Homo sapiens: one gene and its partner. The protein of the gene in region 1 interacts with the protein of each later gene in a pairwise test. Each region holds a gene or a part of one and is shown on either strand. Other genes may lie near its edges.

What was found.
Region 2: the proteins of ZNF639 (region 1) and ZNF837 interact in binary tests that used the Homo sapiens proteins (3 or more experiments, as listed by UniProt).

Annotation. Positions count from the first base shown.
Region 1 is NC_000003.12:179,329,490-179,333,143, reverse strand, and holds part of ZNF639 (zinc finger protein 639), read right to left. Parts: intron 3,527-3,654; coding exon 3,416-3,526; intron 156-3,415; coding exon 21-155; intron 1-20. UniProt on the Homo sapiens protein: Binds DNA and may function as a transcriptional repressor.
Region 2 is NC_000019.10:58,370,967-58,374,620, forward strand, and holds part of ZNF837 (zinc finger protein 837), read right to left. Parts: exon of another isoform or gene 1,576-3,654; intron 1-1,575. UniProt on the Homo sapiens protein: May be involved in transcriptional regulation.

The DNA.
Region 1 (3,654 bases):
TATAAATTAGTTCCCCCAACCTGTAGAAAAGGCAGTGTGGTCTAGAATTCTAAGTACAGGACTGGGAACCAGGTAGTTCTGATTTCTGTTTCTGGCCTTGATTCCATCTGCAAATTTTGGCAAGTCATTTGACGTCTCGGTATCAGAATCATCATCTGTAAAAAGGGATTTGGAAGAATACTTATTATTTATACAATCAAAGCATTAATTATAGAACAAAGCATCAATTTTTAAATATGATTTTGAATTCCAACAGGAACTAAGGACTTGGATTTAGTCATAAAAAGATAAGTTATCTATATACCTCAGACACAGAAAATCTGCTCAAACAAGCAAATGCTTTAGAATTGATGCCCCATTTGGACTAGATTACACTTTTTGAAGTTCCTTAGGATTTTAAGTTTAAATTACTGAGTTTGAATAAGCCTTTATACCCTCAGGCCAGCCCCAGTGTTTCAAAGTTAGCATGGGGAAACTGAAATACAGGTTAATAGTGAAAACTGGGCTTCAACATTTTGCGAGGGACCAAGTTTTGCTCAGTCTGCCAAGGCTGGAGTACACTGGCATGATCATGGCTCACTCACTGCAGCCTCAAACTCCTGGGCTCAAGTGATCCTTCAGCCTCAGCCTCCTGAGTAGATAGGACTACAGACATGCACCACCAAGCCCGGGTAATTCTTGTTTTTTGAGATGGGGTCTTGCTATGTTGTCCAGGCTGGCCTTGAACTCCTGGCCTCAAGCGATCCTCCCACCTTGGCCTCCCAAAGACCTGGGATTACAGGCGTGAGCCACCACACTCAGCCCATCCATCATGTTTTCTTAAAATAGACCTTATTTTTTAGAATAGTTTTAGAATTACAGAAAAATCTGAGAGGATAGTATGGAGAGGTCCCATGTATCCCAGTTTCTCCACTACTAACATCTAACATTAGTGTGGCACATTTGTTACAATTAATGACCAATACTGGTAACTTATTAATAAAAGTCAATAAAGTCATCTAAATGCCCTTAGTTTTTAACCTAATGTCCCTTTTCTGTTCCAGGATACCACATTCCATTAAGGTGCCATGTCTCTCTATGCTATTGTTGGCTGTGGCAGTTTCTCACTCCTTGAGGAGTACTAATCAGGTATTCTGTAGGATGCCTTGCTAATGGAATTTGTCTGCTTTCTTTTTTTTAAAATGATTACGCTGGAATTATGGATTACTGGGAGATAGACCAGAGGTAAATTGCCATTTTCATCACTTCTTATCAAGGGTACATACTATCAATATGATTTATGGTTGTTGATGTTGATCTTGATCACCTGGCTAAGTCTCTATCAGGTTTCAACACTATAAAGTTGTCTTTTTTTTTTTTTTTTTTTTTGAGATGGAGTTTCGCTCTTGTTGCCCAGGCTGCAGTGCAATGGCGCGATCTCGGCTCACCACAACCTCCGCCTCCCAGGTTCAAGCAATTCTCCTGCCTCAGCCTCCCGAGTAGCTGGGATTACAGGCACGCACCACCACGCCCAGCTAATTTTGTATTTTTAGTAGAGACAGGGTCTCTCCATGTTGAGGCTGGTCTCAAACTCCTGACCTCAGGTGATCTGCCTGCCTCAGCCTCCCAAAGTGCTGGGATTACAGGCGTGAGCCACCGCACCTGGCCTAAAGTTGTGCTTTTACTTTCCATACTTTACCTTTTGTAAGAAGTCACTATGTGCAGACCATGCTTAAGGAGTGCAGACTTATATTCCACCTCCTAGAGGGAGGAGTAGCTACATAAATAATTTGGAGTTTTACTGCTTCTTGGCCTTTTGGCTAAGATGAAGTCTAATAATTTGGAATTTTTCTGCACAGATTTGCCTCATCTCCTCTATTTAATAATTTATAACAGCATGAATTCATGGATATTTATTTTATACTCTGGGTTATAATTTTTTGTCCCCAAATAGTTTTCAGTTTTGGCTGTTGGGAGCTCTTTAAGTTGACGTGTGCCCCTTTGGCATACCCCTGTCAAGTGCGTGTGTTTAGGTTTTTTTAAGTACTTTCCTATTTTCCAGCACTACAAAATGCTCCAGGTTCATCTTGTATATTTCCTGCCCCAGACCTAGAATCAGCCATTTTCCCAAGGAGGCATTAGAAACCAAGAGCTGGGCACTGAATGTGCTCATGCTCACTGCTTCTGGGTGTCATTTCTTTTAGCCCCTCTCAGCTAACACAGCAAAGTGTGTGTGTACAGTACCACATATATATACACACACATATCTACAAGCATTCTGTATGTAGCCATCTGAATCTATAGTAAGCTAAACAGGAATTCATACCGATGTCTCTAACTCTCTAACTTAAGTGCAAGTTGTAAATTGTTATCATTCACCAATGCTGTAGAACAGAGGAACCAATAGAAGATCCAACATTGAAAAATACCAAATCACCCTCTGTTCTTTTCTTCCACACTATGTGGTATAGCTGAGTAGAACTGTGTCTAACACTATTCTTAACCTTTCAACATAAATACTCCAACTCTGAGTCACTCCTGCATTGCCACCAATTCCTAACCAACTAAAGTGGATTTAGGGCTGAGAGCCGTGGCTCACACCTGCAATCTCAGCACTCTGTGAGGCCAACATGGGAGGACTGCTTGAGGCCAGGAGTTCAAGACCAGCCTGGGCAACACAGCAAGACCCTGTCTTTACAAAAAAATTTTTAAAAATTAGCCAGGCATCGTGGTGCATGCCTGTAGTCCCAGCTACTCAAAAGGCTGAGTGGGAGGATTGCTTTAGCTCAAGAGGTCAAGAATGCAGTCAGCCATAATCCATGGAGTGAGACATGGCTGCATGGGTGACAGAATGAAGACTGTCTCCCCCTAACCCCACCCCCTTCAAAAAATGGACTTAGGAGAGTGCACTTTTTTATTTATATGTCAGAAATAATGTTAAAAGTTAAAATTACAGCCGGGCACGGTGGCTCAAGCCTGTAATCCCAGCACTTTTGGAGGCCAAGGTGGGCGGATCATGAGGTCAGGAATTTGAGACCAGCCTGACCAACATGGTGAAACCCTGTCTCTACTAAAAGTACAAAAATTAGTTGAGCGTGGTGGCGCACACCTGTAACCCCAGCTACTCAGGAAGCTAAGGCAGGAGAATTGCTTGAACCTGGGAGGCGGAGGTTGCAGTGAGCCAAGATCGCGCTGCTGCACTCCAGCCTGGGCGACAAAGCGAGACTCCATCTCAAAAAAAAAAAAAAAAAAAAAGAATAGTTAAAATTACTTGCTTTCTTAAAAAAATACAACTTTGTTTTCTTACATTGTAACAAATTTCAAAGACTTGTCTGTTTTGAAATCATCAATCCACATTTTACCCACATTTTCAAGTAAGGAATAAAAAATGTAAAAGCAGTTTAAAGAAACATATTTTCGAAAATATTAGATATACCTTTGTTGTCAAAATATTTTAAATCTGGCTGTCTCATAGAACAGACACTGTAACAATGATCAGAGAAAATTCCATTGAATCCATCTGCAATTCTGCTTATTCCAGAGGAATCTGAACATAAAATGAAAAATATTTCAAGTACAGTAAACATACATATTTAATGAGAAACTTCCCGTTATCTAACTTATACAAATGTTCTTAATGTTAATTATAGTATCTGTAATGAAAATATTATACAT
Region 2 (3,654 bases), on another chromosome or scaffold:
CGCGGTGGCTCACGCCTGTAATCCCAGCACTTTGGGAGGCCTAGGTGGGCAGATCACGAGGTCAGGAGATCGATACCATCCTGGCTAACACGGTGAAACCCCGTCTCTACTAAAAATACAAAAAATTAGCTGGGCGTGGTGGCGGGCGCCTGTAGTCCCAGCTACTCGGGAGGCTGCGGCAGGAGACTGGTGTGAACCCGGGAGGCGGAGCTTGCAGTGAGCCGAGATCACGCCACTGCACTCCAGCCTGGGCGACAGAACGAGACTCTGTCTCAAAAAAAAAAAAAAAAAAATTGCCGGGCATGGTGATGCATGCCTGTAGTCCCAGCTACTCAGGAGGCTAAGGCAGGAGAATCACTTGAACCTGTGAGGTGGAGGATGCAGTAAGCTGGGATTGGGCCACTGCCCTCCAGCCTGGGCGACAGAGCGAGACTCCGTCTCAAAAATAAATAAATAAATAAATATTTTCCTCATTGTGATGTGATGTGAGGTTTCTCAGCCTCACACGTGATAAGTGCACAATCCTCCTGTCCCCTCCCTAGATCTCATTGTTTCCAGAACAAAGATGGATCTGTCCAGCACAGCCTTTAGACTCTGAATCCCGGATGGCTAACATCATATGCAGAGCGTGAGATGGACACACTTGTGGCACCCTCGTAAATCACTGCTTCACTCGGCACAGGAGCTCAGATTCTTCTCCTTTTGTCCTGTGTTCCCTATTCTGTGCAAGGCAGATATCCTCTTATTTTATTTTATTTATTTTGGTGTTTTTTGAGACAGAGGCTCTCTCTGTCACCCAGGCTGCAGTGCAGTGGCGCCATCTCAGCTCACTGCAACCTCCGCCTGCTGGGTTCAAGCAATTCTCCTGCCTCAGCCTCCTGAGTAGCTGGGATTACAGGTGCCTGCCACCATGTCTGGCTAATTTTTTGTATTTTTAGTAGAGATGGGGTTTCACCATGCTGGCCAGGCTGGTCTTGAACTCCTGACCTTGTGATCTGCCCACCTCGGCCTCCCAAAGCGCTGGGATTACAGGCGTGAGCCACCGTACCTGGCCAGATATCCCTTTATTTATTTGTTTGTTTGTTTGTTTATTTTTATTTATTTAGAGACAGGGTTTCACTCTTGTTGCCCAGGCTGGAATGAAGTGGCACAATCTCAGCTCACCGCAACCTCCGCCTCCTGGGTTCAAGCAATTCTCCTGCCTAAGCCTCCTGAGTAGCTGGGATTATAGGCATTCACCACCAAGCCCGGCTAATTTTGTATTTTTTTCTTAGTAGAGCCGGGGTTTCACCATGTTCACGGGGCTGGTCTTGAACTCCTGACTTCAGGTGATCCACCCGTCTCGGCCTCCCCAAGTGCTGGGATTATAGGCGTGAGTCACCGCACCCAGCCGATATCCATTTATTAAATGTCTCAGAGGGCCGGGTGTGGTGGCTCATGCCTGTAATCCCAACACTTGGGGAGTCCGGGGGGGGCGGATCACGAGGTCAAGAGATCGAGACCATCCTTGCCAACATGGTGAGACGTCCTTGACCTGATGTCACTTTTTCTGTCTGTTTTGCAGATTTCTAACAGGCAGTTGCCCTGGGCCACCTGGTGGCCTGAAATAACTTGACCGGGAACTAAAAGGACTCACGAAGCATTTAACCAAGACTCTACATGTTGACTTTTCAGCCAAGGACACTTCAGAGCGACTGGCTGCAGTTCTCCAAAGGAAGCTGCTGCCAGTTGCCCCTGGGGGGTTATTTCCTTCTTGGACATCATGACCACAATGGCAGAAATGCATTGATGGCCAGCACTCTGGGGATGAATGTTTTTGAGTGGAAATGAAACATACCAAACTGGTTAAAGACAAAAATGCAGAGTTGGACAAGTTCTGCAGGTCACGAAAGGCCTTTGAAGCAGCCAGGCCCGGTTCCTGCTCTGCTGTATGGGAGGCTGCTGGCCTGAGCTGGAGAGCAGAAAGGCCCAGTGCCAAGGGTTCAGCAAGTACCAGTCCCAGGCCAGGCATTTGCTAATAAGCCAGGGTGACAGTAAGGACAAGGGGACTCTGGTGTGATGTGAGGTTTCTCAGCCTCACTTGTCACACGTGATAACTGCACAACCCTCCTGTCCCCTCCAGGCCTGTGTGAGACAGGAAAGGTGAGGCTGCCTCTCCCTCTGCACCTTAAAGCCACTCGGGGTCTGGGTTTTCCTGAGACTTCCCGGAGCCAGATGCAGACTCCCAAAGGCGCCGATCCTTCCTCGATCTCCCTCCCTCAAGAGTGGCACTAATCAGGTCTAATTTAGAGAAAATCCATCACCTCCCCCCACTGTGGGCTCTGCCACTTCATGCCTTGGTCTCTCCACCTATCAGCCAGCTGGAGCCTGGGACTCAAGGAGGCATGCTTGGAAGTAAGGAACTTCTCTGAGTACGAGGACATCTGGGTGGTGCTGAACACCAGCATGCTTTGCCCCGTGGCCTGGACTGTGCACAGGGCACCTAGAGTGACCTGTCACCTCCCACGCAGGTGGAAGGGTGTGAGAGAGAATGGGCACTCAGTTACAAACATCCCCTTCCCAAACACTTGTGGATCTGAGTCTGAGGCTACTCCTTCCAGGTGAGGGGTTGGCTGCTGTTGTAGCTTGTTACTCTCTTTCTGTCCCTTCTGCCCTCAGGTCTTGACCATGCAGCTTCCCAAGAACAGGATGGGGAATGATATGGGCACATGGGGAGGCAAGCAGCCACAGGCCTCACCTGCTCATGGGCACTGACCGTCCCAACAGCAGGTGGACATGAATCTAACCCACAGACACCAGAGTAGAGGGAGCTGGGCTCCCTGAGTCTGGATGGGGTTCTCACAGGCCCCCACAGGGAGACAAGGGAAGCTTTCTCCAGAATGTGGAGTACGGACTCACTGTGTGAATAAAGTAAATGAGCTGGAGGGGGCGGGACAAGATTTCAAAAAGCACCACTCATACACCCAGGACTGGCAAAGCTGCTGGCAGTAAGCTCTATCATGGGGCTCCCCCACTGCAGGTGAGCTGATTGGCCTCAGCTGGCACCATCCATGCTCAGTGTTTGCCCTGAGGACAAGAAGACATGGCAAAAAAGAGGAAAGTACAGAACACACTCCCACCTGGCTGGTGGGGATATAGATAGTGCAGCTGCTGTGGAAACCTTCAGCTCCACAGAAAGGTAAAGATGGAGCTACCACACCCCGAGTAATTCCACCCCTAGGTATCCACCCAAGAGAAATGAACTCAGGCATTCAAGCAAACACTGGCTCACAGATGTTCAGAGCAGCGCTGTTCACAGTAGCCAAAATGGAGAAACAAGCCAAGTATATAAAATGACAAATGCATAAATAAGATGTGGTATATCCATAGAATGGGATATTATTCAGCCATAAAAATGGATGAGTACTAACACATACTGCAACATGGACTTTAGAAAACATGGAAAGTAAAAGCAGTGAGTCACAAAAGACCACATATTGCATAATTCCATTTATACGATATATCCAGAATAGGCAAATCCACAGAGACAGAAAGTAGACTGGTGGTCGCCAGGGGCTGAGGGGAAAGAGTGGGGAGTAATTGCTTTACGGGTATCAAGTTTTGGGGTAATTAAAATGTTCTGGAAATTATAGTGGTGATGGTTGCACAACATAG